Linked DNA regions of Homo sapiens. The protein of the gene in region 2 interacts with the protein of the main gene of each other region in a biochemical or structural test. Each region holds a gene or a part of one and is shown on either strand. Other genes may lie near its edges. The genes, in order: PJA2 and KSR2.

Region 1 (16,242 bases), on a different chromosome or scaffold from region 2:
CTCCAGCCTGGGCAACAGAGAGCAAGACTCCGTCTCAAAAAAAAAAATATATATATATATATATATATCTATGATGTATATTTATGATATATATATCTCTCTCATGAAGAGGAAAAAAATGCCACCTCAACCTACCACTGTTGAAACCAATTATGTTTGTGAATTTCTTTCTTTATAGATTTTTCTATATATTTTATTCCTAGATTTTCTTATAGGATTAATCTCAAGCTGAAAATGTATATGCTTTGAGAAGTACAAGTTTTAATATTAGTCTACACTGAAAAAGTTCTTTTCCTAAAAAAAAACATAATTTACCAAAATAGTTCCCATGAGACTAAGAATTAGAACCAATTATCATAGAAAAAAATTAAATTATCAAAAAGATATTCTACAATAAAACAAGAGGCCTAGATGGTTTCACAAGGGAATACTAACAAACTTTAAAGGAATAAATAAGCTATTTAAGCAACAGATGCAAGGACAAAAAAAGAAAAAGAATACACATCTTTTTAGCAAAGCAAGTACCAAACTGATATTGAAACAAAAAACTAAAAGACAATTTGCATCTAGGAATCTCATTATAAAAATCCCATGTAAAATATTAGAATCCAGCAGCCCATTAAAATAACAATAAACCATGACTGTGATCAGATTTGGTTTATTTCAAGGAGCAAGGGAAGTTGAATATTAGCAAATCTAATTATAGAACAATTCTTCATGATCAGGGCAAAAGTAAAAAACCATCATGATCACTTCCATTGATGCTGAAAAGACTTTCATAAAATTCAACAAACATTCTTGCTAGAAACCCATAAAATAGTAAAAGGTTGGAAGACAGCTATACCCATTCATTTACATCTTGTCTATGGCTACTTTTATACTGCAACAGTAGAGGTGAGTAGCTGCAACAAAGACTGGACACAAAGCCATAAATATTTATTATCTAGCCCTTCATGGTATGTTTGACAACCCTTACAGTACTAGAGCTTTCCCATTAAAATGAGGAAAGAACAAAAATGTTTATCATCAATCACTGATATTTTGGAGATCTCATCCAATGCAATTAGACAAGAATATGAACACTAGCTTTTGCAACTAACTGTCTCCATTTCTGTGAATGAATCACTGATTTCCCTCTTGAGGCTGTCCTTTCTCCCTTGAGCAATGACAGTGCTAATTCACCCATTCCTAACTTAACCAAAATGACATTTTAGGTGCCCAACTTTTCTTATTAAAGCCAAGTGGAGACATATATTGTATCTCCATAAACGATACTGAAATTATCAGTATTTTCAACTTAATTGTTCTTTTTAAAATACCAAAAGCATAATGAAAAAATCAGGGGGGCCTACTGGTTCTACATAAGGCTTATAAATACAATTAATGGCATATCCAACATTTGAATGTAAAATATACCACTCTTGTACAATATACAGAAAAATAAATCTCACTGTTGAACATACCCTTCCTGAAGAGATAATTCTTGGTTTTCTTCTTCAGGGCCACTGCTATCACTTTGTAGCTCAGGTTCATTCTCATCTTTTCCTGGCAGAGTCTCCCAGCTTTCATCACTTGAGGATTGATCTTTTTCTGTACCAGAAAATCGATGAGGCAAAGAAGCAGACCATTCCCCATCACTGCATTCAGAACTGCAAATCAGAAGAGAAATAAACTATCATAATGTGTTCAGTTATTTTTATCATTTGGGGTGTTAACTAGATGATATGGTTTGGATCTGTGTCCCCACCAAATCTCATGTTGAACTGTAATCCAAAATGTTGGAGATGGGGCCTGGTGGGAGGTGACTGCATCATGGGGGTGTATCCTTCATAAGAGTTTAGCATTATCCCCTTGGTACTGTTCTTGTGATACTGAGTTTTCACCAGATCTGGTTGTTTAAAAGTGTGTGGCACCTCCCCCCTCATTCTTTCTTACACCTGCTCCTGCCAAGTGAGAAGCCTTGTTCCTGCTCTGCATTCCACCATGATTGGAAGCTTCCTGAGGCACCCCCAAGAAGCAGAAGCCACTATGCTTCCTGTACAGCCTGCTGAACTATGAACCAATTAAACCTCTTTTCTTTATAAATTACCCAGTCTCAGGTGTTTGTTTATAGCAATGCAAGGATGAACTAATACACCAGACATCATAGTATAGAGTGGAGTGTCGATGCCACATATGCTTTGTCAGGTGCTAATTCAATCTTCAGACTATTAAACAAATAAATGCATGCAGTAGAGTGTGACTCTTTGAAAAGAATATGGCATATGGCAAGTTATGGAATATATCACTTTACTTTTTCTTACACTACATCCATGGTACCTAGATAGGGGCTTGTCATATTTTAGACACATTTCTAAATAAATTTTTAAATACAATTTGGTAATCTTAAATGCTACCTGGAATAAATGTAAGTAGACTTACTGCATATCTAACATGACTAAAACAACTTTCAAATTATATACTGACAACTAATGACATATTTTCTATGAATAAATTTCTACTATTACCATGTAATAAAAAGTTAACTGTCTTTTTCCTTCCTTTTTCCCAAAGAACTTTTCAAGAAGTGACATTCAAATGCATAAAAAGCAGTACTGGCAAAACTTTACTGTCCTTAGGTAGCACTGTGAATACAAAATAAATTTCAGTTCAGGCCGGGCATGGTGGCTCACACCTATAAATCCCAGCACTTTGGGAGGCTGAGGTGGGCAGATCACCTGAGGTCGGGAGTTCGAGAGCAGCCTGACCAACATAGAGAAACTCCATCTCTACTAAAAATACAAAATTAGCTGGGCGTGGCGCTGCACGCCTGTAATCCCAGCTACTTGGGAGGCTGAGGCAGGAGTTCAGCTTGAACTTGGGAGGTGGAGGTTGCAGTGAGCAGAGATTGTGCCATCGCACTCCAGCCTGGGCAACAGGAGTGAAACTCCCTCTCAAAAAAAAAAAAAAAAAAAAAAAGCAGCACAGAAAATTACTTTTGATTACATTTAGCCAACTTGGTTACAATTAACTACTCTTAGTTTTTAAAGAATTAGTCCTCTTATGCTACCAAAGGCTAAAATATTACTTATCAATGTTGAAAATAAGTCTTAAATGCCCCCTCCAACCATATCAACCATTTTGGTTAAGAATCTCCTCAAAGATCTCTCTACGTTCACTAGACTTGGAAAATCAAAAATAACAATTTTAGTTTACATTTTTGAAAGGAAGTGATAATTGGTAGGAAATTACATTTTTTAATGATGATTATTATGTCAATACGCAGTTAGTGATTTCCTTTATTAACAGATGCACTCAAAAGATCAAGATGATATTAACAAACAGTAGCACTAATCTAAGCTCTGAGAAGTTTACTAGAAGCAAAGATATAAAATCAACTGCCAATTTCCAGTAAGCAATGGATGGCAGGGCATTAACATCCCGGAGAAGGAAAGCTATAAACCCTAGGCACAGCAACTAAAAGGTGTTCTTTCAGCTGGGTCTAAGCCAAAGTTCCTTGTATGCTGTACAATTTTCTGTGACCCAAAGAATAATCTAATATAAACAATTTCTAGACTTATATAAGTATTAAAATCCAACACAGAAAGTAGTTTTAAAGGAGCTTATTGACCTAAGTTTCCTTGAGTAAGAACCTTCTAAAATTCAAAGCTAAATTACCAACTCCTATTTTAATGTCTTTAACAATTAGGGTAAGATTTCTATATAAATTTGTGGCAATTCTTAACATATATAAAAGAGAAGCTCAGTTTTTAAAAAAAAATTTTCACTCAGAATATGATCCTGTCCAAAGAGATAACATTAAAAAGTCCTCACTTTTCCATATTAATCAAATAACTCATGGAATATCTCTAAACTTCAATACAAGAGGAATGTCTATGATCAATAATCAAGAAGCCTATGTTATGGATTGGCAAACTACTACAGGCTTGGGTTCAAACCTGACTCTGCTGCCTGTTTTTTAATGGTGTGTGAGCTAAAAATGGTTTTTACATGTTTATCTTTAATTTTGCCTCTTAGTCACCAAAGCCTAAAATATTTACCATCAGCTCCTTTAAGAAAAGGTTTGCAGACCCCACGCCTATATCATTATTACTCATGATACCTAACCCTCAATGCTAAGGAGACAACTTTTAAATGCATATCCCCAGCCAGCCCCAACCATCACACTAAGCTTTCGCAATCACTAACTACCCTCTAAGCATTTTAAGATTTTTCACCTTCCTTGTCAAAAATTCTATTATAAAATTAATCTGTCAGATGAATCCCTATCTTGATTTGTTATCTTTTAATGCTATCACCATGCTCTCATTCTGCAAACACTTATTTTTTGACTCTTCACAAACTCCCCACATTCAAATCCTTTCTTACTTTCCATTCTTTCTCTGCACAATGGCTCTTGTAGTCTTAGCTCCTTTTTCTCCGTTTCTCCTAAAATGTAAAACCCTAGTTCAAATGCTTTTCTCCAAATTAGACCTATATAGTCAATTATTAATTGGTGTTCCTAAATTTAATTCCACTCCCTCAAAATGCATTCTGAATACTACCATCACTTCAATTTACATATCAAACAGTATGTTTATAGTATTACTCCAAAAAACCTTCAACAGCTCTTTTTTCTAATGCTACTGCTTTAGTTTCACAAACAAGCCATTTGCCTATCACTCTCACAATTTTTGCTGCAGTTGCACATTAACCCTCTGTCTTAAGGTACGATAGTTGAGAATACAGGTCCTGGTCAGCTTGCCTGGAGTTAAACCCACCACTTATTAGCTATGAAAACCTCTCTATGCCTTTTTAGCCTCACATATCAGGTGAATACAACAACAGTATTTAATAGTTCACTGGGTTCATGTAAAGGGTAAGTGAGTTAATATATATAAAACATTTTCACAATGCCTGATAAATAATGAGCCATCAATAACTGTTAGCGAGTCTTTTTTTAACATTTTTTTAAACTCAAATACATTTAGTTAGGATAAGCAATAGCCATTAAGTCCTGAATTTGATGTGCTACCTATATTTTCTTAATTTCCATTAACATAAATACATAATGATTAAATTAAAAACATTGTGTACCACTTAATATATTTTACCCACTTTGGAAATAGTGACCTATAGAATAAAAAGTTAAATGTCTTTGAATAACACTTATAATTTACTGCTATCTGATCCCAGTACTTTCTTGCATCCAACTCAAGAATGCTCTATTTCAAACAGTGTCCTCAAAGTGGGCATTCTTGCCATCAGGAATATCTTTATAATCACTTCACCTTTTCCCCACTTCCAAACACAGATCAGACTCTATTTCTTTCAAGACCTTCCTGTATAAAATCGCTTCTTTTGTTTTTCAATTATTTCATGAACTAGACTTCTTGTTTACTCAGTGCAGCTCACTACAACACAGCTGCTTCTTTAACATTGCAATTATTTTTCATAATAGTGCAGAGAAATCAAAGAAAATGGGTACTGAGAAAAGACAAATGGATGTGGAAATCAGGAGGTCACCACTGACATTAAAGAATATAGGGCCGGGTGCAGTGGCTCATGCCTGTAATCCCAGCACTTTGGGAGGTTGAGGCAGGTGAATCACCTGAGGTCGGGAGCTCGAGACCAGCCTAAGCAACATGGAGAAAACTGGTCTCTACTAAAAATACAAAATTAGCTGGGTGTGGTGGCGCATGCCTGTAATCCCAGCTACTCAGGAGGCTGAGGCAGGAGAATCGCTTGAACCTGGGAGGTGGAGGTTGTGGTGAGCCAAGATGGTACCATTGCACTCCAGCCTTGGCAACTAGAGCAACACTCCGTCTCAAAAAAAAAAAAAAAAAAAAAGAAAGAAAGAAAAAAAAATTAGCCAGGCATGGTGGTGCACACCTGTAGTCCCAGCTACTCAGGAGGCTGAGGCAGGAGAATTGCTTGAACCCAGGAGGTGGAGGTTGCAGTGAGCTGAGATTGCACCGCTGCACTCCAGCCTAGGTGACAAAGCGAGACTGTCTCAATAAAAAAGAATACAGAAATAATATTAGGAATTAGATTTCAAGGCAGTAAGAAGAGTGGATAGTGACAGAATAGAGACAGTGGGTATGGAAAACTTTTTCTTAAAATTCAGCAGTAGAAAAGAAAACACAAACAGGCAAATAACAGAGCAAGAAAAAGTAAAGGTTTTCTTCAAGATTGAGAAAAACTCAAGGTTGAGAGACAGAGGGAAGCAACCTGTGAGTAAGGACAATTAGATGAAGTGTCAGAAATAACTAGAGGCACAGAATGAGAGGGGCTACCTCTCTTCATTGAAGAGGAAATTAAAAATACAAATAAATACTACTATCCCCTAATATGGAGAAGAGGAAAATAAGAAAATTCACATTTACATATTTTTAACTTCTACAGGAAAATAAGAAACGAAGCTAACCATTAGGAGTGACAGGAGTACATGGAAGGAAAAAAGGGAAAAGATTTAAAAATCACTTTTTAAGGAGTAAGCAACAGAACAAATAGGACACAAAAATGATCATGGAACAGTGAAGATCCATTTGTTCTAGATTTTAAAAGCGGGTGAATGACACATTTAAAAGTTCTCAAAGTAAAAACTAAATTAAGTACTACTTTGATCTTCATATGATCCTTCACTGGTACTGATCCCTTTTAGCACCTAAGAGTTGTATTTAAAAAGCAGACAACTATAATTTACTCAAATGTTACACTCTACACATTCAATTGTGAACTAAAAAAACTTGATATACAGAATGAAATTATAGACAAAATTTATGTACAAATCCTAGGCAGAAATAAGCTATGGAAACATAAAACCAACCAAAAGTAATCTCTCATTCCATAATTCCCCAAGGTACTTGTTACTTTGTTCTTCCTGGCATTTATCACAGCCACAAGAAACTCAACTACAGGAGCCTAGGAAAAAGTGAAATTTTAAATATTTTGTTATCTGACATAATCTAAACATTCTGGAACTTTTTACCACTATTAACACTGAACTGTAATGTAATACAGTGATATGAATGGATTATGTCCAAATATATAAGTCTGCTTAATTTCATTAAGATGGCTATGATTTTTGCATTGTGCCTGCTTTTTGTCACTTTCTGGTCTTTTTCCTTAGTATCAGGTTATTGTAATCCCATGAACTCCCTAGCATATCTGCAGAACAAACACATTTATACCTAATGTGCTCCTTCCAAACTTCTATGAACTTGAAAACAAGATAAAAAGGTTTGCTAAAATGTCAGCACATATGCTTTAAGATCTGTGCCTTGGCTGCATATAGATGTTTTATTTGTTGGGGGTAGTACCAAGTTCTCAGACAAACTCTTTCTTTGTGGCTCTCAGGTAACCTACACGGAACAGGAAAGGCGCTTAATTCAGCCTCACAATAATAAATACGTATATTTTGTCTTCTTCATAAAGCTAGTGAACCTTGTGGGAACAGGGACCATTATGATTTGTATTAACAGGGCACCTGGAACAAAGTCTGGCACTTAAGATTTCAACAAATCCTTTAATATATCATATTGAAGTCAACTAAATGGCTAACAATCATTTTATTTCCCAACATCATCAACAAAGTAAGTTGTCCCAACATTTTACCTTAAGTAAGGTTTTTAAATTTTAAGCAAAGTTAAGTCCTAAGGCCACAAAAATTCTGCAAGAAACCTCAAATGCTATAAGTAAGGAACAGACAGTAGATGGCATGCCTCTCTTCAGAGCAGTTAGGCCCAAGGTTAAGATATGCTAGTATTGCTGAAAGGTTTTTTTTAAACTCAAGATCTTGTCCTCAAACAGTTACTAAACTTCTCAGGGTATATTTCAAAAGAGCAGGGTATTAACCTTAGCTCTTTGGTCTAATTCTAAGTCTGGTAATTATATGCTGCCTATTAAAATTCCCCTTGGAATCCTAATTTAATAAGGTGGTGCTCAGTACCTGTCAAACAGCTCAGAGCAATGCTACTGGCTGCAATGTTTATCCCACAGAGTGTAACATTTCAGATGTGATTAAATGATCATTTAGAATTTTTCAGGGAAGAAGGCAATCATGAATTCATTAAAATACTTTTCTACTTAAAAAGAATATATAATTCATATTTTTAAAAAGTAGCCAAAATTCCTATATCTAAAAATGCTGGCCGGGTGCAGTGGCTCACGCCTGTAATCTTGACACTCTGGGAGGCTGAGGCGGGTGGATCACTTGAGGTCACAGGTTCAAGACCAGCATGACCAACATGGTGAAACCCCATCTCTACTAAAAATACAAAAATTAGCTGGGCATGATGGCATGCCTGTGGTCCCAGTTATTCAGAAGGCTGAGGCAGAAGAATCACTTGAACCTAGGAGGCAGAGGTTGCAGCGAGCCGAGATCACGCCACTGCACTCCAGCCTGGGCAACAGAGAGAAACTCTGTCTCGAAATAAATAAATAAAAAATAAAAAAATAAAAATGCCACAATGAACTTTAGTTATATTCTTGATGAGTTCTACTTTGGCTATTATAAGCATGACAAAAAAAAACTTTTCAAGTATATCAACTTTTTAAGCTTTACAAAAAAACTCAAAGTTCACAGGCCCAAATTAAGCAGCAGCTCTTATACTTTCCATCCAAAACCTGAGAAGACTAGCATCACCATCTCTCCAATCTACAAATACAAGAACTAGGGAGGATGACAATGAAACATCAGGGAGATGAACAAGGGCAAAATGAAACTAAATAGGAGTGTACAGCTATTAAATTCCAACCTTTAGCTGGCACCATATTAAAAAGGCACCCTGGCAACTATAATCCTTTGCAGGGAATTAGGGTAGAGGAACAGGACACAGCAGCATAGAAACAGAGTTTCTGTTCAGAAATAGAATAATCTGTACAGAAAACTGTACAGACACTTTGAGATCGTAAAACATATCTTAAGGCTATGGATAAAAATATAAGTACAGTCCTAGGCAGAACCATTATCCTTTAGAATTTATTCTATGATTCTTTAAAACAAAACGAAACAAGAAACTTTTAAGCATTTCAATGTGTCTTAAACAATGATCCTAAAGTAGTTCCATCATTTTGGCATACCCTAACCACAGGCTCTGTAGTCAATACATTACTAGCAATTTAAAAGGACAGTTTCTATTAACTGTAAATGTTTTTTCCCATCTATATATTGTTTGTAAAAAAAAAAAAAAAAAACTATCATTGTTCAGAATATTGACATCACTTAAGAAAAAAATTAAAAATAAGAATAAGAATTACAAATAACTAAGAAAATACCTTATAACTATGAAAAGTCCAGGGTCCTTCAAGGCAAAGAATACACTTCCACCACTGACCACCCCCAAAACAAAGAAAATCAATTTAAAATCAAGGAGCCAGGAAGACTACCTTTCTCTAGGGGTTGGCAAACAATGTAACAATTTCATCAACTTCATCATAAGACATTATAACTGACTATAAAAAGCAAGCAGAAGAGAAGTATTTATTTTGCCCAAAATGACAAAGGTATAGCCAAATTAAATGATTCTCCTTAAAGAAGAAAAAGTGTAACTGGGGGAAAAAAAATACAAGCACCTTACACTTTCAAAAAAATAAATTATCAAAGACTGTAAGTTTTGTCTTTTTTTAAAAATAGTAACCTAGAGGTATAATATTAGAGACTTGCAATCTATTTCAAAATCTTAGGGCTAAATGTGTTTTGGAATTTTGATATATATTTCCCAGATTTAGAACTACTACTTAACAAACCCCAACATGGTCCAGGCCACACACAGTAATCAAACATAACTATATTTCTGCAGTAAAATATACAAATATTTGAAAAAATACCCTCATTTCAATTCAGATCCAGATCTGCTTATCCAGGAAGTTAACATCAGGTCAGGCTTTGTGGCCAATTTCTGTTTTTAGAAGTGTGGATACTGAATAAAACACTGTGGGCTTGAACTGAAAAAAACTTTACCTTTAGCTTAAAAACAGTATATCATACAAAAATTACTTACTAACCCTTAAAGTTTACAGACTTTGACAGAGCAGCAGAAATTATATTTTAAATATTTTCTATAATAAATTACACAATCTGTATTATAGTAGCTTAATTCATATGTCCAAAGAAAATCAAATGAATTGTTTTATGACATGAATTAAAATGCATTCATATTCAAAATGGTAAATTTCTTCCTTTATAGTACTTTCTAACTAAAAAAAAACCACACAATTATTTCCACTAGCTAATAAAATCTTGCAATTGCACTGTAATTGAGCACTGTCAGGGATGCAACTAGCTTACAAGGACTCATGAAAATCTGGACACTGGGGTAATGGAAATTCAGCAACTGAACAAAGAAATTCTCCATTTTTTTCTTTTTCTGTTGTCTTATGGTTTGGAAAAAAAAGATACGGGTTTGTAAGAGCAATCAGAATGCTTATTATAAGTTTTATGTTCTGTTGAAAATAGCAAAGAATAGTGGTGAACAGTCTCTGGAATACCCAGTTAGGTACTCAAAGTCCAGCTCTACCATTAAGTTGCTCTGTGACCTTAGGAAGTTATATAATGCTCTGTGCCTCAGTTTCCTTATTTACAAATGAGGGAAATAATGGAATCTACCACACAGAGTTGTTAATGAGAATTGAATGCTAAGAAAAAATAAGTAAAAAATAAACTTAGTGATAGGAAGAGCCACAGGAAGAACAGATAAAGAGGGAAACAAGTGATATTAGTCACTACTGGCAATGTTAATGAAGTATTACCAATCAATAATTTGTGATATTAATCACTTTTTAAACCCAGACTGGCTTAATGTAGGTTTTTAAAAAATACAACAAATGTTTATTTTACATTTTATTAATTGAAATACCATGAACTAGCATCTCTATCCCTTTATAATAATAATCATTATCTGAACTTACTTCTGTAAACTACTAAAAACCTCAAAAACATTTTTTTGTGAAAAATTCTAATGAGTAGTTTGCATGTATGGTTAGCATTCAGTAAATAAAAATATTTGGTAAGTCAAAATGTCTAATTCCCTGATCATATCAAATAGCCCAGCCATCAAACATGGTTCTAGAAAGAAACCACTTCATTTACTACACAATCGGAAAAAGTACTGGATGTGACCTTACCTATCTTCATCTTTGTCATAGAGTTGGTAATAATCTCCACAGCCATTCCAAAAGGTGTTATCCACCTCTTGCCTTCCTGCTGTGGCTCCACTTTCTGATGTCATTTGGTTATTTTCTGTTTCCCTTTGTGTAATAACTCTTGAGTATGGTGGATCCAAGAACATACAGTCATGCTCTCCATCATATTCTTCACATTTTATTAAGAGGTCATCTGAGCCACTTTCCTCAACTTCCAAAGCCTCTCTCCATCTTTGAACACTTCTTTGTTTCGCCTCATGCCTATTAAAACCTGTTTCTTGGTCCACCTGGCTTGAACTTATCAGTTTTCTAACTTTTGGCCTCACTACCTGTTCAGGAGAACTTCCATGGTTCTTTTCCCTATCATTGGTATTTTGTTCACTACAAATATGCCCTGGACCACAGGCTGCATCTTCAGGTGAATGTTCTGTCTGTCTTTCCTGGCTAGTATTATTTTGTTGTTTCGTACTAACCATTTCATCTTGAGAAGACCTCTGAATTTCCTGGCTATTCTGATGGACAAACTCAGTATCACCAGCAGAACTTTTCACTAATGGTACAGAATCTAACTCTTCAAACTCATCTCTTACTTCACAGTTAAATGAGGGAACTGGTGGTGAAAGACCAGTGTATGCCTCTGCCTCTCTGTTTTCCAACTCAAATACTGTATTGCCTAATGATTCCTGGTATCTACTACCTTCCACGACTTCTGCAGAAAGTTGAAGATGGTCATTATCTTCTCCATGTTTGCCATCTGGATCATAAGAGTCTGTATGAACCAATGCAATTCCATTTTGGACACTTGAAGCACTACAAGCTCCTGGAATATACTCTCCCTCAGAGTGATTATGAAGATTTGTACTGCTTCCTAAGGTATCCCTGCCTTCCTCACTGTGATGTACTGCAACAAAGGATTGACTGCTCTCAGTGGTTTGATTCAATGCTGAACCACAAGTGGGAATTTCTGTTTCACTTTTTTCAAATATAGGTTCACTGGGTAAAGAAGAATCAACTTGATCCAAAGGACTGGAACCTTCATAAAAAACAAAAGAAAACATATTTTAAAGGATTAACTTAGATAAAATTTTATGTAATAACTATCACTTAAGTGGAAATCATACCAATTATTACTACTTGAATACATGAGTAAATTTATTTACCAAGCACTTCTATGCTCCTTAACTGAGAATGCAGACTGATTACTCTATGAGTTCATTTATGTCAATGTACAGCCTTTCACTATCATCTCCCTCACATGGCTTTGGCAGTTTTCTATCTAAATCCTAATATCTAATGCCTTCTGCAAGACATATAAAGGAGAAGCTCTTGAGAGGTTATACAATGGGAAGCCTCTCGTAAGTGGAGTCTAGGGTAACCAATCTGCTTCCCAGTGATTTCCAAACTTACCTTCTTTATTATATGCAGGTAAAAACAACAACAAAACAAAAAACCTTCAAAAGTACTTATGACAGATATAATAACTATAGTTACAGATTTAAGAGAAATTAGACCCTATTGTGTTTTGTTGGCAATTCACAAAATTATATCTCAGTATCTCGACAGATTATAAATTGAATTGTTGTAATACATTTGTAATAAGTTTACTTTAGATGTGTTATAGTTATGACTGAAAAACAACAAAGAGATCAATATGTTGATTCTTGTCATAATTGTGAGAATTCTGAAACATGAGTAAAATCATATCTATAAATTACTTTAAGCATAACTATCTTGCATCACCACTAATAAAAAAAATGAAGACATTTGAGATTTGCTGGAATAAAAATTCATGAATTGTAAAATAACTGAAGTTCGGCCATGATATATGGTACGAAGGGTTCTTTGATATATGGTACGAAGGGTTCTTTTTTTTTTTTTTTTTTTTTTTTTGAGACGGAGTCTTGCTCTGTGGCCCAGGCTGGAGTGCAGTGGCATGATCTCGGCTCACTGCAAGCTCCGCCTCCCAGGTTCACACCATTCTCCTGCCTCAGCCTCCCAAGTAGCTGGGAACGAAGGGTTCTTCAATGGGATGACCCTAGCTAGTAATTCAGATTCTTACATATGACAGCAAAAATAATCTAGAAATGTCTTGTCAAGTTTGCTTAGAACAAGAGGAAGAAGACAAATCCAGTCCAAAAATGTGCAATTATGGTACATGGATAGCTGCAAAATACTTTTTCAAAACCATTGAATAACTAAGAAATTTTAATTGAATAAGCCTTCCTTGTCCTTTGGATTTTGTAAAATGATGAAAAAATAAACAAGCCAAGTTAAATTTAGGATAAAATTAAAAGAAGAAAAGTTGGCCGGGCACAATGGCCCATGTCTGTAATCCCAGCACTTTGGGAGGCTGAGTTGGACGGACCACTTGAGGTCAGGAGTTCGAGACCAGCCTGGGCAACATGGCAAAACCCCATCTCTACCAAAAAATACAAAAATTAGGCGTGGAGGCGCATGCCTGTAGTCCCAGCTACTTGGGAGGCTGAGGCAGGAGAACCACTTGAACCCAGGAGGTGGAGGCTGCAGGGAGCCCAGATCACGTCACTGCACACCAGCCTGGATGACAAAGTAAGATTCCATCTCAAAAAAAAAAAAAAAAAAAGAACGCCAGGCATGGTGACTCACACCTGTAATCCCAGCACTTTGGGAAGCCAGCCAAGACAGGTGGATCACTTGAGAGGTCAGGAGTTTGAGATCAGCCTGGCCAACGTGGTGAAACCCTGTCTCTACTAAAAATACAAAAATTAGCTGGGTGCAGTGACAAACACCTGTAATCCCAGCTACTAAGGAGGCTGAGGCACAAGAATTGTTTGAACCTGGGAGATGGAGGTTGCAGTCAGCCAAGATGCACTACTGCAGTCCATCCTGGGCAACAGAACGTGACTCCATCTCAAAAAAAAAAAAAGAAGAAGAAGAAAAGTTATTTAAATATTATATGCAGGGAAAAAATATCTCTACTTGATCCACATTTTTAAAAATTTCAAAATATATCTTTTTGATTCAAAGATGATTTCCTTTGGCTGGAGGTTATGACAACGTAATCACTACTATGAGAGTGTGGTTATATTTTAATGATTGGCTGTATTCTATTTTCTTCTACAATGTTTAAATATATACACCATTAATATTAAATTCAATAAGAATTTCAAAATAGAATTTCTTGATAGGAAGTGTGCTGCATTTACACTCACAGACATGCATAATACCCACCCAAAAATTTAATTATAAGATCAATTCCTATATAACTATTAATAACCTTTAAATAATTAAATGTTACACACCTGAGGAATTTTCCTTTGGAACATCATCTAGTTCCAACACTTCATAGTCATCACCAGCCCGACCTAAGCTTCTTTCATGTCTGGTCATACATGGTTTAAAACTGACATAAGCATGTCTTCTTCCATATCTCCTGCCTGTAATTGTCTGATACCCTCCTGCTGGTTTGGGCCAGACAGCCTTACCAGATTCTTGGTCCATTGCTGAAAAAAAAGTTAAAAAATTAAAACAGGAACAGCAATGAGCTTTATTCTTGCAACCTGTTGGGGAAAACTACTTCAGTTTATATTTTATTATTTATCAAATCATATGCTTCTGAACATGAAGTGTACCTTACTAGTACTATAAAACATTATTCTTCACACACTAGAAAATTAAATATGAAGTACTATATAATAAGAGTTAGTGGCCTTTTCCCTTCAAAAAATATGTTTTAAAATTTGGTTTCTTTAAGGTATTTCAGATTTTTATAATGAAACCTATCAAAAAATATTTTTCATATGCCAAATTATTATACTGCCAAAGCTCTTTATGGGAGATCTTCCAAATTAAGTACCTTATATATTATATTAATATAAGTGCTCAATACATATTTGATGAATCAATTACTAGCATTATGATATGATGGTTTCAATTACTTTAAGAATGAAAACATTTATGTCAAAGATAACAAGTAACCTCTTTAAATGGTATCTGTACCATGAAGAATCAACTAGATCACAATAAATATGTTCCAAAGATTAACGTCAGATAAAACTATCCAAAAGAAAACAGCAATGAGCCAGGTCAAACACATACTACCCTGCCTTCAAAACTACCAATAAATGGTATATGTTATGGTAAGAAAAGCCATCAACATTTACATGACTTGACAATTAAGTTTTGTTGACTGAGGGGTATACAGTAGTAAACAGCAGCAACTTTCACTAAGTAGTACATTATTATACACACACATATATATATTAAGTGTAAGTCTGCTTAGTCAATTATACATTACATGTACTACACAGCAACTAAACAAAATATTTTCTCACAGCATATGGTATAGTCAATAAATGCAACAGTTGCTGGGCATGGTGGCTCATGCCTGTAATCCCGGTACTTTGGGAGGATGAGGCAGTCGGATCACTTGAGGCCAGGAGTTCGAGATCAGCCTAGCCAACATGGCGAAACCCCGTCTCTACTAAAAATACAAAAATTAGCCAGACGTGGTGGCACATGCCCATAATTCCAGCTACTCAGGAAGCTGAGGCATGAGAATCACTTGAACCCAGGAGGCGGAGGTTGCAGTGAGCCAAGACTGTGCCACTGCACTCCAGCTTGGGTGACAGTTCGAAACTCCATCTCAAAAAAAAAAAAAAAATGAATAAATGAATGAATGAAACAGTTACATAATTTCTTAGTTGTATTAAAATAAGAAATATAATCACTTCCAAGAAGGAAACAGAAACAAACATGTATTTATAATACACGCACATATCGAGTATAAATAATATCAAGTGTTACACTTATTTAATCCCATCAGTAATCTTGAGGTGGATATTGTATTCTATTTTAAAAATTGAAAAATTAAAGTTAAAATTAAGTGTTGGATAACTTGTCTAATAATCCAAAAGTATGACTCCAGAACCAATGCCCTTAACAATTCTACCAAAAGAATAGTCTCCGAAGTGGAAAGCATAAAGCTTTCCAAGCTAAATGGGTATGGAAAGAAAATACCAGAATTTCTATTTTTACCTATCAAAAATTAGAAACTAAGCTTTACAAATATTCAATATATGGATCAAAACCAGCCTTTTAGTAAGACCACAGGTCAGATGATCATATGTCACTTACTGG
Region 2 (16,242 bases):
GTGAGATAGCCCAGGACAGACATGCAGATACTGTAGGAGACTTTCACTTTTTGCAACCTCAGTTTCCCCTTGTGTAAAATGGGCCAACTCATACACCCACCCCATCTGAACGTGGTAAGTGGGAAGAAATCATGCTTGTGAAGGTGTGTCGAAAAGTTTACAGTGCTAGATACCAATTGCTGTTCTCTGAGAGAGAGATTGAGGGTGAGACAGATCTGGGTTAACTCAGCAGAGATTTGCATTCTAGGGTGCAGACGGTCACTCACCGTGGAGTTTGCCCTTAGGCACTAATGTTAGAAATGAACCACAGTCATACTTTTCTTTTTTCTTTTTTCTTTTTTTTTTTTTTTGAGACAGTCTCACTCTGTCGCCAAGGCTGGAGTGCAGTGATGCGATCTTGGCTCACTGCAACCTCCACCTCCCAGGCTCAAGAGATCCTCTTGCCTCAGCCTACCAAGCAGCTGGGACCACAGGCACCCACCACCATGCCTGGCTAATTTTTTTGTATTTTTAGTAGAAACAAGGTTTCACCATGTTGCTCAGGCTAGTCTTGAACTCCTCCTAAGTTCAAGTGACCCACCTGCCTCGGCCTCCCAAAGTGCTGGGATTATAGGTGTGAACCACCACGCCCAGCCTAGCAATAAATATTCAAACTAGCAACTCATGTATTTAAGAACACTTACTGGGTGCTGGTCACTGCTCCAAGTACTGATGTTAATTCATCTAAGCCTCATAACGCTGGGAGGTAGGTACTACAGGTACAATAATTATGCCCATTTACAGATGAGACAGTGGAGGCTCAGAGCAGCTAAGTGACCTGGCCAGGGCAATATAGCTTGCATATGGCAGTGCTATTTAACAGAATTAGACTCCAGCCTGTCAGTCTGCTCCCTTCCAGCGCATGCTGAGAAGAACTTACCAGGACAGATGAGGCCAGTTCTTCCATCTCTCAGCAGCAGCTCCTCAAGGGAGGGGCCTGGGAGTTCCAGTCAGATTTGCCGGATAGCCTGTTTCTCCATCTTCAGTTATTCTGCTGTCGAATGAGTTGAATAGTCCCAGCCTCACTGGTTTTCCAGGTCAGGTGAGATCTTGTTTCATAAAAGCACTTTATAAAGTGGCTTTTAAAAATCCAAGGTACTTAGAAGCCCATCATGCTGTGTGTGGCCCCAAGAGGGCTATGAGTTTTGGGTTCTGAACTTGGGGTGGGCCAGTTACTTCATCCCTCTGCACCCAGCCTTCACATCTATAAAATGGAATTGTGTGGTTGTGGGGATTAATCTGGGCACAGATCACATGCTCAGTGTGGAGAGCTGTAGTTGTGTGCACATCCGTGTATATTTCTGCATTCACACGACGAATTCACGGACGAATTTCTGCATTTGTCCCTAGGGGAGAGAATGCATTTTTGCCGGGCTGGCTGGAAGAATACTTGGCCAGACTGTGATAACTTGGATTACGGTGCAGGAAACATTCACTTCCTTCCCCCTCCCACTCTGGGTGGAGTTTACAATACTGTCCTATTGAAAGGCTCAGTTATTTGACTTGCTTGACCCAATGAAATGTTAGTGCATATGGTTTGAGATGATGTCATGAATGTGTCTCTACAGGCTGGTTGGCTTTTTTTTTTTTTTTTTTTTTTTTTTGAGACAGGGTCTTGCTCTGTCACCCAGGCTGAAGTGCAGTGGCACAATCATGGCTCACTGAAGCCTCAACTTCCCAGGCTCAAGTGATCCTCCCACTTCTGCTTCCTGAGTAGCTGGGACTACAGGTGACTGCTGCCATACCTGGCTAATTTTTTTTTTTTTTTTTGTAGAGATGAGGTTTCGCCATGTTGCCCAGGTTGGTCTCAAACTCCTGGGCTAAAGCAATCTGCCTGCCTCAGCCTCCCCAAGTGCTGGGATTACAGGCTTAAGCCATCATGCCCAGCCTTGTTTGGCTCATATGTTCTGATGATCTTTCATGGGAAGAGCATGCCCCAGGGAGTTTCTTCTTCAGCCTGGCCCCTGAAACAGGGAGACATGTGGAGCTGACTTGAACTTGACCTGAAGCCTAAAGAGGAGCCTCTTAGGTAAACCCAACCTAGAATCGCAGACCCACGAGCACGAGGATAAATGTTAGCTGTTGTAAGCTATGGAGTTTGGGGGAGGCTTGTTACACAGCATTACCGTGGTGATAGCTGGCTGATACAATGGCCAATGTCATAATTCAAGCTTCTTTCTGTACAACAGACAACAATAGAATTCAGACCTGTCTTGGCAGTAGTGCAATGCAGTAATTCTCAAATTTTTTATTGGCATAAATAATTCAGACATTGGTTTCTCACTAAACATTGCACTAAACACAAGAAACAACAGGCTTGCTGGCTCAGAGGCACACAAACTGTCCAACAGCCCAAGTTAGAAATACTTTTTTTAGAAGTGTAGAAAACTTTATAAATGATTCTGTACAAATATACACAGTGGACCCTCCATCCATCTGGCCTTTCTTTCCTGGATGGCATCTGAATAGAGTGTTCCTTCTCAGCAACAAGACATTGGCAACAAGTGAGAAAGAGAGAGACAGAGACGGAGACAGACAGAGATAGAAACGGAAAGGAAAAGAAAGAAGTGGCCCCCCAAAAGAAAACATGAAACCACCTTCTTACATCAACTCACTCTGCAACAGTCGACACAAACAAACATGGAGAAAAGAATATGGACCATCGGTCCGCGTTGGTCTGTACAAGAATTAGTCTTTATATATATAATATATATGTATAATATTTATAGGTCTATATACTTTGTGTATAGAAAAAGATAACAGCATAATTTACATATAGAGAAAGCCTTTTTACAATTGAGGAATTTTCCTAAGGTCAGTAACTTCAAGAGTAATCAATCAAATTAATCATGCGTTAAGTCTGTCGAGTGGATCCTGGTACAAGATCAAGTCTCAAAGAGAGCGAGAAATGAGAGGCTTGGGGTGGAAACGTTGACCACCTAAGTCTGGGATCTTCTCTGCCTGGTCCAGGTATGGTCAAGGGCACAGATGTAATGTGACTTGCCTTATCTGCCCCAGTCAACTTCTGCTTTGGGATAGGGAGGAAGAATGTTCTGTTTCTATGAGGGCCTTGGTGGGGTGGGGGCTGGTCTTGCCAGAGACTCTCTCACATCCTAAGAGACCTCTGCCTTGTAGACGGGGGGAGGGGGTGTCCTTATGACACTTGGGCATCCCTCCCCATGTTCACCAGGACACAAATATCTAAATAAATGGGTAACACCCACCACCTCGCTATTCTAGTCCCTTATTTTTCAGGAATGTCCCCCTAGAGGTGGGATTCTGGGGGAGGTTCATTTGGGTGATTGAGAAGAAAAGCCACATTGATGAAGCACCTACTGTGTGCCAGGTATTGCGTAACGTTATTGACATTCATTATTTCATTCACTCCCTCCAATAAACTCAAGGGTTAGTGATATATTAAGTGCTCGTGGGTTGCACAAAGCTAAGAAAATTCAAGGAATACTCTGGAGGGGCTGCTGATGCTGAGAAAGTGTTGATGAAATCATTATCCACAATAGACAGTGGCTCAAGAAATGCAAATTGAGTCAAGTTGAAGCAGATAAACAAGCCTCGCTAATTTGCAGTAGCCACATATACCCTGGGAGTCTGGCGGTCAGCAAAGATGCTTTGTTTTCTGTCTTTCAAACCCTGACATATTTATAGAGACAGCAAACACACCACTCCATCAACAGGACTGATACATTCTTTCCCACACTTCAGGCTGTATTGCAGGCTTGGCCTGTGGCCCACTATGGCCCCTAGGTCTTCTTCAGTCATTTCTGTAACAAACCAGCATTTTGCCCATCATACCTGAAATGTTTAGTTAGAGACCCTCAGTGTAGGGTCTTTCCATAAATACATTTCCACGTTCACACATGTCCTTGACCTCAACACTTCAGGGGCCTATTCATAGAGTGATATGAACTGTCCCAGAAAGAGGTTTTTTGCTGAAGAAGGTTTTTTGGTATGGCAAGACAGAACTGGGGGCCCCAGAGACATCAGAGACACAGGTCGCAAGAGTCGATAGAGGGAAAGTGAAGCAAAAGAGGAACAGGAATGAAAAATGCATTAGAGAGAAGGGCTCATGGCCAACCCATCTATAGCCAAGATGCCCATGGACTTCAGGACCCAATGCAGGGCACTAAGAAATAGAGACACATCCTTCACTGTGTGGAGGCAGGCAGAGACAGAGACAGACACAGAGACAGACAGACAGAGAGAGAGAGAGAGAGAGAGAGAGAGAGAGAGAGAGGTCTGTAGAGCCAGAGAGGGATGCAGAGCAGGCCTGAGGTGGCCTGAGTACTGGTCTGACTCCAGCAAGCACAAAACTCTCCTCAGACATCTTCCCCCACAGGACACCAAGGCTAACAGTAGGAACCAGAGCATGCTGGGGAAAGAAGTCAAGGTCTCCACATCTGAGCCAGGGCACCCTCTGTTTGGAGATGGAGACTCCAGGGTCCCAAAATCAGGCTTTGGGGAAAGCAGGGAAAGGCAGGCAAGTGCCAGGGGGCAGGATTTTAGCCACTTGCAGTTACCCTCAATAAATCATGATCTTGCCTCTGAGTCCACACATAGGCTGTTCCTTCTGTCTGACACACCGTTCCCTACCATTCTACTCAAATTTCAAGACAGGGTTCAGAAGTCTCCTCCTCTGAGAATCCTTCCTGGAGGGTCTTTCTCTGGGTTGGGAGCTCCTGTGGGGCCTCGGGACCCTACTGGAACTCCTCCCTCTCTTCATCGGACTCCTAGTACCCTGAAGGCAGCACCCACTTTTCTCCATTTTTTCCAGAATCACAGGAGGCACTTAACAAATATTTACTAAATGACTATATAAAATGAAGATTTGGGGAATGAAGGGACAAGGTTGCTCCACGCTGGGCTCTGCTGAGGGTGTAGTGAATGGGGCTGGGGACATGAGCCTTTGAAATACAAGCAAAATTTTCTTAGAATCCTTCGGCTGCTCAACTGTAGGCATTTGAAATCCACCAATGTACCCAAAAATAGGGCTATGAGGAAACTAGAGGACCGGGGCCCAGAAGCAGTGCCTTGTGGAATATGGGACAGCTATGGGAGCTCATGGAGAACAGAGACTCCAAATTGGATGCCATCTTGGAAGTGGAGTCAGAGAAGCTCATGTGACAGCATGCCTGACATGCCACCATATGGGCTTCTGGCCTCTGTGCTCCAAGCCTTGGGGCTTTATGAGGATTGATTCCAGACGCAAAGTCAGGGTGTGTTTTGATGGGGTGGGGAGTACAATCTATGATATTCCTTGATAGGTTAGGACCGCAGAGGCCCTCAGGAGGAGATAGACTTCCGAAAAGAAGGAAGAAGGAGCCAGGCAAAGATTTATGCATCACACAGTTGGGCAGAAGCCTGACCAAGGACAGCCCCTCCCTTAATGCTCCAGTCGAGCCAGGACTGTCCAGATAGCTTTGAAGGGGCAGGGTGTGCAGTGCTCCCTAGAAGGCTGGCTAGGAGGGAAAGGGGGCCGGGGCAGGGGGCCTCGGTGTGGCAGGGCAAGTACCTTAGAGTACCTTGATGCCCATGCTGTAGCTACATAGCAGTTACTTGAACTTACACAAGTTCATATGTACCCATCTAAACATTATTACTTGTAACACATGTAGAAAAATAAGCAGAGGAAAATGGCTAGAATCTTACAGGACCAATACATTACATTTGTTGTCCAGGACGCACTTAAGCTGCCAATGCCCCAACCTGGGCAGGGCTGTGTTGGGGAGAGGTTGACCCCATCTAGGGCAGAGCCCCAGCCAACTCAACTGTCTTCTTGGAAGGTGTCCCAATTCCCAAAGCAATTTTCCAAGATCTGGTCTTTTGCAGTGCCCGACTCGTCCTCTCTGTTACCCTTCCCAATCCTGGGACTGCCGGAAGCTCCAGGGATTTGATTCTAGGGGTAAAACAGCTGGACCTACAGAGGCCATCCTCACCCACTGCCTGTCTCCATGCCCAAATCAGTCACACGGGACTGGACAGAACTGCCACATCTTGTCCAGACTGTCTATGTTGTTGCTTCATTGCTACCAGAGACAGCCATTCTAACCCGGCCTGACTCTCTTCTTCACAGTGAACTGGGAATTGCAAGGAAGGTAGAAAAGGCCCTTCACTATCTGGGAGACTTTCCTTCCTGGGGAATACAGAAGGGCTTTCCCTGAGTAGCCTCAGAAAGCAACACCAAGATTGCCGGATGCAAGTCTCAAGATTTCAGCTCAGCAAGAGGATCTGCTTCTTAGAAGGGCTGTGGAAGGATGGAGAGAATGACTGGAGATTTCAGCCCCTGTCCGTGCAGACGGTGAAAGGCAAGTCCACATTCTCCTTACCTAGACAGCCTTCAAACCACTGGTGATGCTAACTAGTGCTTTAAAAACCTATTTCCCTGCAATGTTCACTTAAGGAGTCCCCTCCTTGTGTTTTCCTGTTCTCCTCTGATTTCCTTTCTCCCATGGAAGGTTGCAGATGGCAGGATGCTGGATTTGAATCCTAGTCGCGTGGCCTGGAGACAACTCAGGGGACATCTGGCAATGTCTGGAGATGGTTTTGGATGTCACACTTTGGATGTCAACTGGAGGCTTTTGAAATCCACCAACATACCCAAAAATAGGGCTATGCTGGAACTAGAGGACCGTGGCCCAGAAGCAATGCCTTGTGGAATATGGGACAGCTATGGGAGCTCATGGAGAACAGAGACTCCAAACTGGATGCCATATCAGAAGTGGGGGTCAGAGAAGCTCAGGTGACACCATGCCTGACATGCCACCATATGGGCTTCCAGCCTCTGTGCTCCAAGGCTTGGGGCTTTATGAGGATTGATTCCAGACAGCAAAGTCAGGGTGTGTCTGGGGATGTTTTTGGATGTCACCAGTACCAGGTGCTACTGGTATCTTGTGGGGAGAGTTGAGGAAGCTGCTTAACATCCTCCAATGCCCAGGACAGTCGCCACCTCAAAGAATTATCTGGCCCCAAATAGCTCAACAGTACTGAGGTTGAGAAACCCTGGCTTAGAATGAACATCTCTTTATCCTTCTCTTCCTTTAGATCTTGACTTAAATGTCACCTCCTCAGAAAGACCTTTGTCAGCAGCTCTCCCACAGTATACCCTCTCCCATGTTTCTGGTCCCCCGTGAGTTTTCTTTCCATAGATCTACATGAGTTGCAAATTTATATATTTGTGGTTGACTTGCTTCTTGTCTCTCTTCCCCATTGGGCTTTAGGCTTCAGAACAGGTGAGACATTGTATCACTCATCACTGAATGCCCAGGGTCTAACACATAGTAGATGCTCAACAAATCACCCACTGAATGAATGGTTGGTGAAGAAATCTCTGTCAGAGAGGACAGAGGTTCACTGAATTCCAGACAAACCCAGAATGCCAGCATCTGTGTGAGGACACAAAGACCTCTCTTCTACCTTGTTCATCCTGTCGCCCACCACTCAGAAAAGGCCTCTGGTTATTGTTGGCCTGTATTTATTTCCTCCTGATATCCTGGTACCAGCCTTTCCAAAATTCTCACTGTAGTGCTGGAGGTCAGGGTATTTTTAAACTAGAAGAACTAGCCAAGCTGGTTTTTTTTTTTTAAGTGGTGGAAAAGAAAAACTAAGATTTGTTTTTAATCATTAGACTTTCAAATTTAAGAAGGCGCGATGCAAATAGCATGTTGGCATAAACAAGTGCTGCCCGCTCAATGGAGGGAGGGAGCCTTTCTTCTGAGCTAATTTAAGCTAAATACATGGCAGCTATTTTTCATCTCTACAATTGTGCAACTTTCTCCTCAGTTTACAATACAGGGGAGATATTATCGGGCAGAAGTTGGATGGGGGATAAGTGAAGACGAGAAGGAAAAGAAGAGGCAGTGGACAAGAAGGTACTCTCAGCCACCGAGCTGGTGATTAGAGGTATTTCAAGAGCTCAGGAGTAGAGCTGGTGGTCCACTAGGACCTCAAGATCTTATCTGGGTGGAAACTTGATTTTGAGCCTTCCATTCAGGGAAGAAACCAAAGAGCAATTGGAGTCAGGCTCCTTTTCCTGCCCTTTATATGCAGCACCCCCTGACTTCCCAGAAGCCCAGACTGAACAGCAGAAATTTTACAAACCTCCTCAAGAAAGAAAAGCCCTTGCAGCTCTCCTGCACACCACCACGCACACTGTTATTCCTTAAGGCCCCCATATGCCGTGACTTCCAGCCCAGCTGTTACTAGACTGGGCATAGCATTCAGGCCTTGTGGTGAAGCCGTCCCAGAAGATAAATGATTTTTCTCCAAGCAGGCAGATTACCGAGTAGGATCATACACAGAGTCTTAGAGACAGAATCTTTCTTTCTGCATTTTCCAAGTTCCCTAACTGAGAAGAAACATCTGCAGAGCGCTGATAGACTGTCCACCAACTACAGCCCAAATGGCTTGGCTTCTGGAAGTTTCTGAGGCCTGAGTTCTAAACCTACCTCTGCCTCTTAGAAGGGACCTGACTTAGGGGAGTTTATTATAGCTTCCCTCTCTGGGCCTCAGATCCTGCTTCTGTGAAAGGAGAAGAGTGAGATAAGGGAGGGTCACTCATATCCATCTTAAGTGGTAACTCGAATGCCCTGAAGCTACATCTGTGATCAGTGGGAAGGCATGCTGTGATGGATTAGTGATGTCTGCCAAGAGTACAGCAGGGGACACTGGTGGTAGATCCATTACATATTTGTACTCCTTGGACCAGATCTTTATCCTTCTAGATCTTAGAGGTCCTTCTAGATCACCATCCCAATGACTTGGTTGAAGATGAAAACTCAGGTGAAAACTTAACCCTTCTGAGGGTGTTACATCTTATATACTTTTCACATTGGCCTCCAAGCCATGGTATGTTGGAGAAGCCACCAACACACAGCAGATTTGACCCCTCCATTGGAAGACACCATCAGCCAGATGTGGTGTTCTTGTTCATGGAACCACTGTCCACATGGATGGAATCGGGCTCTAAGCTACCTTTCTCATCTCCTAGCAGTGTCTATGAATGCTAGTGGTCAGCTCTTTTCTGTGGGCCAGTACATTGACATTGCCTCCTTCAGTACCAGGTAAGGTATCAAGTCTCATTCACAGAGGTTGACCTTGTTGGAGATTCAGAAACAAGCCTGGGAAAGCTTGGGAAGAACAGCCTCCTATCAGGCATTTAGAGATTCAACCACACAATAGTGTCTTAAAAGTTCTGATAAGTCCTGCAATCAAGAAATTAGTTTCATTTTACCTAAGCATTTCCAATGCATGCTTGTCCCAGGACCCTTTCAATAATGCAAATCCGGCGAGTTTTCCATGGAATGAAAGGTCTATGGGACATGCTTGGGAAACAAGGTCTTATTTAGATCAGGCACATTCTAGACAGAGTCCATCTCCTCCAGCTCAGTCCTCAGTGGAAGGAGGACAGCCATTCTCAACCCCATGAGATGAATCCTTCATATTCTTGGTGTTAGGAAATGGGAGCTGCATGATCCCAATGAGTGGGAAGGAAGGGCCCTTTCCCACCCCTGAGAGGGAAGAGCACTCACTGATGTACGCCTCTCAGGAACACGGGACCACAGTGCAACATCCAGCAGGAGAGACGGAGGGGATAGGAAGCCTGGAGCAGGGATACTGGAGGGACCCAGGAGGGACTCTGCCAACCCAGATGTACATTTCCTGGAAATCCGGGCTGCTGCTGGCAGCCTGTCAGTTTGAGAACATAAGTTCAAGCTTCCGTGCAAACTCCCAGTATGGTCCCTGCCAGCCCCTGCACCCTCCCTTCCACAACTTCCTGCTTTTCCTCTCTCTCTTTCCTGGTTCCAAGTTGCCAATAAGTCTCAGAGGCTGGGATTGTAACATCCCCATGAGCAGCTGGACATGAACCCCTTGACCTGGAGGTGGGTTCCTGGGAATGGATGAGCCCAAAGACTCGTTTTTAAAATGCTGGGTCTGCAATTTGGAGGCTGGTTTCTGTCCCTGTACCACAGTTGCCCCATTGGAACGAGAATAAGACTACTGATCTCCCCAAACCATCATAGGAATTCCAGCCTGGCACGTAGTAAGTGCTCTGTGAATGAGGGCTGTTCAGGGTGGATTGTTACTCTGCCTCCTAGACATCCTGGGCCACCTGACTCAATGGGTCGCTTCATACGTCACAGATATTAAACCTGGCAAACTGGCTCAGCACAATGGCTTAGCCCTGTAATCCCAGTGCTTTGGGAGGCTGAAGCAGGGGGATTGCTTGAGACCAGGAGTTCAAGACCAGCGCGGGCAACATAGCAAGACCCTGTCTGTACAACAAATAAAAAATTAGCCAGGCATGATGGTGTGCACCTGTAGTACCAGCAACTTGAGAGGCTAAGGTGGGAGGATTGCTTGTGGCCAGGAGTTCGAGGCTGCAGTGAGCTATGATCACGCTGTACTCCAGCCTGGGTGACAGAGCAAGACTCTAACTCTAAACCACAACAACAAACCTAACAAACAAACTCATTGGGGTTGATATGGCACCCACAACATGGTCTGGCAAAGGGGAATCCCAATACCATCCAGCCCTGCCAATGGTGCCCTTCTAACTCCCTGTGCCAGGGTCTTACTCTTACCCAGCAAACCTCTCTGTCTGCATTCTGTAAACATTTCTTGAGCACTTACTATGTGCCAGGCACTACTAAGACAAGTCCAGGAGGTCACTGGGACCGCAGATTTTCCATCAACCTCCTGCCCCACTACTGGTTTCAAAACTAAACTGGTAACAGAATGGGTATGGATTGCAGGGCCTCGAGAAGGGAGTCTGGGATTTGGGTTAATATCATAGTCAGGCACTGACCAGAGAGGACAGAGGTTCACTGCGGCTCCACATTCCAGGACCCAGACTGACATTTGCTGCCTGTCACTCCCCTTGGAGTTCAAAGTGATTCCCTTGCAGGTGTGTGCAGGTGAGGGTGAGGTGGTACGGGAGGAGGTGAGGCTGGGAGCCAGGGAGAGTGGCCACATGAGTCTGCCTAGGAACTTCCCCACATCACAGGCAAAGCCAAAAAAGGAAACAGCAAAATGTAGCTCATCAAAATCCACTCCTTTGTCAATGAACAAGAGTATAGATAAAATCAGATGCTGTGTCACCAACTGCTTTGGATAGGGTCATGAGGCACATTCAGGGGTCAAGTGACAGTCCGCTACAGACAAGCCACTTACACACAGGCTGTTCCCATACAGCCACAGAACTGAGATCCAGAGCTGTTGGAATTCAGTGATGGGACGTGTTGATTGGGGCAAGCTTGGTAAGCATGACAGCAACAGCCTGACCTTGTAGACCAGGAATTCTGGGGAATCTATCTTCAAGGGCACCTGGGTTCTACAGTGGAGGACCAGTCAAGGCACAAGAGAAAATGTCTTAGAGGGTGTTATAAGTTGTGGTGTCCCCAACAAAAAAAAAAAAAAAAAAAAAAAGACATGTTGAAGTCCTCATTCCTAGTACCTCAGAATGAGACTTCATTTGGAGAGAGGGTCTTTGCAGATATAATTAGTTAAGATGAGGTCATACTGAAATAGGGTGGGCCCTTAATCCAATGTGACTCGTGTCCTTATAAGAAGATGGCCATATGAAGATAGGGACACACAGAGAGATGATGAGGGCAGGGATTGGACTGACACAGCTGCAAGCCAAGGAATGCCAATGATGACCAGGAAAGCACCAGGAATTCAGAAGCCGCCAGGAAGGATTCCCTTACAGATTTCAGGGGGAACATGGCCCTGCTAACACTTTGATTTTGGACTTCTGGCATCCAGATGGGTGAGAGATGATACATCTGTTGTTGTAGGCCCCAGTGGGTGGTGGTTTGCTGCAGCAGTCCTAGGAGCCTCACGGAGGTGAGGGGGGCTTGGGGATATGGTGGCACAGTGGAACAAGACCAGCCTGCAGGGGATGGATGGGTGAAGTGAAGGTAGGCACAGGATGAGGATAGGGAGGGCATATTTCGGGACTCAAGATTGAGAACCAGTGTGGGGAAAGAAAGCCGGGGATGGGAATAAAATCACAGAGCGTTGGAACCCTAATCTAATAAGATTGTTGTCTTTATCAGAAGAGGAGGAGATACTGGGGATGTGCAGTCACAGAGGAAAGGCCACGTGAGGTCACGATCAGAGGGCAGCTGTCTGCAAGCCAAAGAAAGAGGCCTCACCAGAAACCAACCCTGCTGACACCTTGATCTTGGGACTTCCAGCCTCAAGAATTGTGAGGAATAAATTCGTGTTGTTTAAGCCACTCAGTGTGTGACATTTTGTTATTATGGCCCCCCTTAGCAAACGAAGAGTTTTAAAGTCCAGGGAGTTGGTCCAGCCTTCAGGGCCTGAATTGCCTCCATATCACACAGGCCAAGCAGTCAACATCTGCTCCACCCTATCCAAGGACAGGGAGTTCTCTACTTCCGGAGGCAGCCCGCTGCATCTTGGGGCAAGCTGGCCTTCTTCCGCTGAAACAAGTTCTCTCCCCCTCCAACTTCCTGTTCCTCCCCTGAGAGCCATATCCAACCCTCTCTATCAAAGGCTCCTGTTCCTCCCCTGACAGCCATATCCAATCCTCTCTATCAAAGGCTAGCAAAGTTAGGAAAGGGCCAGATTGTAAAAGTTTTTGACTGTGTGGGCCACATCGTCTCTGTTGCAAATAGCTGGCTCTGTCACAGTTGCATAGGAGCAGCCGTGGTTGTGTAAATGGAGAGGTGACTGTGCTCCAATAACATTTTGTTTATTGACATGAAATTTGAATGTTATAGAATTTTCATGTCATGAAATATTATTCTTTTGATTTTTCCTCAATTAAAACATGTAAAAACCATTTGGCAGGCTGGGTATGGCCTATGGGGCATAGCCTGACAGCCCTGGGTTTAGATTTCTCAAGATAATGATTGGCCTGAGCTCCGTGTCTACTACTTCCTCCGTGTACCTTTGATGATCAGCTGTAGGTGGGGATGGGAATGGTGGAAGGTGAGATAAGGCTGGTTTCGTGTGTTTGTGGGGAGGGGCATGATGTGTGTATATGGCATGGGAGGTGAGAAAAAGGGAAGAACTAGGTTCCCTGGATACAAAAGTCTAGTGGTCAATATCAGTCAAGGGCTTCTATTGACTGACAATCCAAGGTAGCTGTGGAGACAAGTGGATGGGGTGAGGATGGGGGGGTCCATGGCAAGATGAAAATTTTCTCTTTGATCAGTAAAAGGAATACCAGGACAAAATGGATCTAAGCAATGACTTTGGGTTTCCAGCTTGGCTCTGGGGATGGGGACACAAGGGGCACGTCCTCCCACAGGGGGCCAAGAAGGAAGCTCCTTGGTTTTATGAATAATCTGTATCCTGGAAGAGTTGGGTGAAATTTATGTGCAAATCCACATGCCCTTTAAAGAAAGCTGAGATGTTTCTCTCTGCAAAGCCAAGGCTTCCTGGTGAATCTTCACCCTGTGGACTGGTCCCCTCGGGAAGCCCATGTATATGACGGTTTGCTAAAAGCAAGACTGACTGGAACAACTCGCTGCTGAGTCAGTGACTTATGTGTACAGGGCACCTGTGTGCAGCTGTGATGGGACAAGGGCAAACACACAAATCTTGGTCGTGTCATTGTATAGAATGAGTTGCAGGTGAGGCTGGTAATTATGATGTAAAAATATACAGCCTCTTTCCTCTTTTTTTTTCCTCCCTGCGTAAGATGAATATAACCTCCTCCCAAAACCTCATCAGCGAATAAAGATGGAAGCCAGCAGGGAAAGCAGCGGTTTGGTTCTTCCTGGATTTAAATGTGTGCAAATTAAAGCTGGTTTCTCAACAAGTCAGGGCGGTGTAGAGGGGACAGGGTAGGGGCGTCAGGAAGGCACTGAAGGCCAGGATCCTGGCCTGGCTGCAGCAGAGACCAATGCAGGTGGGGACAGAGTAGTGAAGTGGGGAAAGATCGAGAAGTCAAGAGCAAGTGACTCAGATTCAGGGATGGACCCAAGGCACCCTGTTCCACAAAGGGCTGGGTTTTCCCCTGGATCACTCAGGCCCTGTCCTTAATCCCAAACTGGTGCTCATGAATGAATGGAAAAATCAGCTGTTGGAGATCATGCTAGGCCTTGCCAAAGGCTGTGGTTGGACATTTTAGTTAATTCTGGAAACAAGAGAGGCAAGAGTGAGAAGGTGCCAGTTCTTGTGGACATTTCAGCTGCAGGGTAGTAGACCCTGGCTGCCTCTTCCCTTCCTCATATCCTGTCTCTTGGCACAAGGGAACATGACAAGGACTGGAGCCTGTGGACCCAAGAAGTCCTGGTGTGATGGAAGAGAAGTGAGTGGTTGGGTTTCAGGCACTCAGTAGGCTGCTGGGCAGAGCCAAGACAGGTGCAAGTCCAGGCCCAGGGCTGGGACACAGAGTGTTGTGTTGGGATGGGGAGGTGTCCATTGACAAGAGCCATCCCCAGCAACCCCAGAGTGGCTGGGGCTCAGGCAAACATATATAAAATGCCTCCAAGACACACACACGTCGTCAAGCCAAGAGCCATAGATGTCCCCAGAAGAGCAGTGTCTGCTTAGGAGCAGCCCAAGCCGGGGTCTTTAGTCCTCTAGTCCCAGTAAGCTGGGAGTGTTGGAAAGGCAATTCAGGAGGGCCCTTTGGGAAACACAGGGGTTTCCTGTAGCCAGGCTCCTGGGAAGCATGACTGATCTCACCATTCTTCCCGGTTTGGAAGCAGGTTTGGCCCCCAGAGCATGAACCAGTCTGGGAGTCACCCAAGGTGGGGAAGAGATCCTCATAGGTCTATTTGGATTTTGAAAGTAAGATCAGGTAGGGTTTTTGAAGTTCCAGTTCCTCTCTCTGGCCCTCTAGGAGGGAGATGCCTGGATAGATAGTAGCTACAAGAAAACTAAGGCCCAGGTAGTACCCAGGAAACACAGAGGGGCTGTGGCCGCCCTGGGCTTCCTGTTCACTGCCCAGATAATCCTGCTATTGCTCTGCTTGGGGACAGATTTCCCTTTTGTATCAGGTCACATGCAGGGGGTCAGGGCTTTGAAAACATGGGCAAATGACCCAGAGGTTCTCCTCTCCCATCTGCATGCCCAGCCTGCTCTCGGCATCCTTCCTACAGATACAGAACACCAGGGGCTTCCCCAACATGGTCAGGAAGAGTCGCCGGCCCAGGTTGGGATCAAGAGGAGGGAGGGAAGGTGGGGCACTGAGGGAACACACACAGGTGAGGGACACAGGCTTCCGATGGGGAAGCTACTTGAGGACCCCGCACCAGGCTAGAGCAAAGAACGCAGAAGTGTAACAAACATCCTCCCTTTGTGCTCCCCCAACAGGACTCCTCAAGGGTGACAGGCAGGGAAATCTTTTGCAAACGTGTTATCATAGGTACAGCCACATAACCCAACATGGACGTACCCCAAGAACCCGCATCCACCTTGGTGGGGGAATAAGCTTCACTGGTGTGAGTAGCAGAGAAGAGGGAAGAAAAGGAATGTCCTAGAACTCCCTGCCCAGAGCCCTGATTCTCAGGGACCAGACTTCAGGGGGTGCCCTGAATGACGGTGAGCTCTAAGGAGCCCCTCAGAAGTCATCTTGGCTTTCCAAATGGCAAGGAGGTGCGGGCAGTGAGGTGAAAAGGGATGCTACTCTCAGAGAACAGGAGAAAACAGCAGAAATGGGGGAATAGGTCCCCCAGAGAGACCCAGAACTCAAAAGACGTTCTAACTTTCCTACTGTACTTCAGAGCTCTATGCAAAGGTGCCACACGCCATGACAGGCTCGGGTTGGGGTGTCTGAAAACAGATATTTCCAAAGGAACGAGCTTAGCCACTCCCGACCTTCCCTGCTCGATCTTGGCTCAGTAGCCTTGACTAAGCTGCCACTCGGCTCTGTACCCTCCTCTTAGCTTCCCAGATGGTACAGCTGGAACCTACCACATACAGACAGAACTGAGGAGTGCCCCGTCATTGGGACAGTCTGGCTCTTGCTTGTCAAGGGGAAACAAGAGTGAACAACGTCAAACACACAGACACACACACACATAGCCCCGTCTGTGAGCCCCCCCACGTGGGGTCTCCTGTCCTAGTCCCATAGCCCAAAGGCACCACGTGCAGCCTGCAGTGCTCTCATTAGTGCTGTCCCCTGGGCCGCACTGATCAATAACGCATCACCCTGGCTGGTCCGGTTCAGTCCTAGCTCGGGGGTCCCCAACCCTGCCCGAGGAAAAG

Evidence for each region.
Region 1: the proteins of KSR2 (region 2) and PJA2 form a complex in vitro, tested with the Homo sapiens proteins (one study listed by BioGRID).

Annotation. Positions count from the first base shown.
Region 1 is NC_000005.10:109,367,098-109,383,339, forward strand, and holds part of PJA2 (E3 ubiquitin-protein ligase Praja-2), read right to left. Parts: intron 14,607-16,242; coding exon 14,406-14,606; intron 12,158-14,405; coding exon 11,107-12,157; intron 1,650-11,106; coding exon 1,464-1,649; intron 1-1,463.
Region 2 is NC_000012.12:117,450,782-117,467,023, forward strand, and holds the end of KSR2 (kinase suppressor of Ras 2), read right to left. Parts: 3' UTR 2,231-16,242; downstream 1-2,230. UniProt on the Homo sapiens protein: Location-regulated scaffold connecting MEK to RAF. Has very low protein kinase activity and can phosphorylate MAP2K1 at several Ser and Thr residues with very low efficiency (in vitro).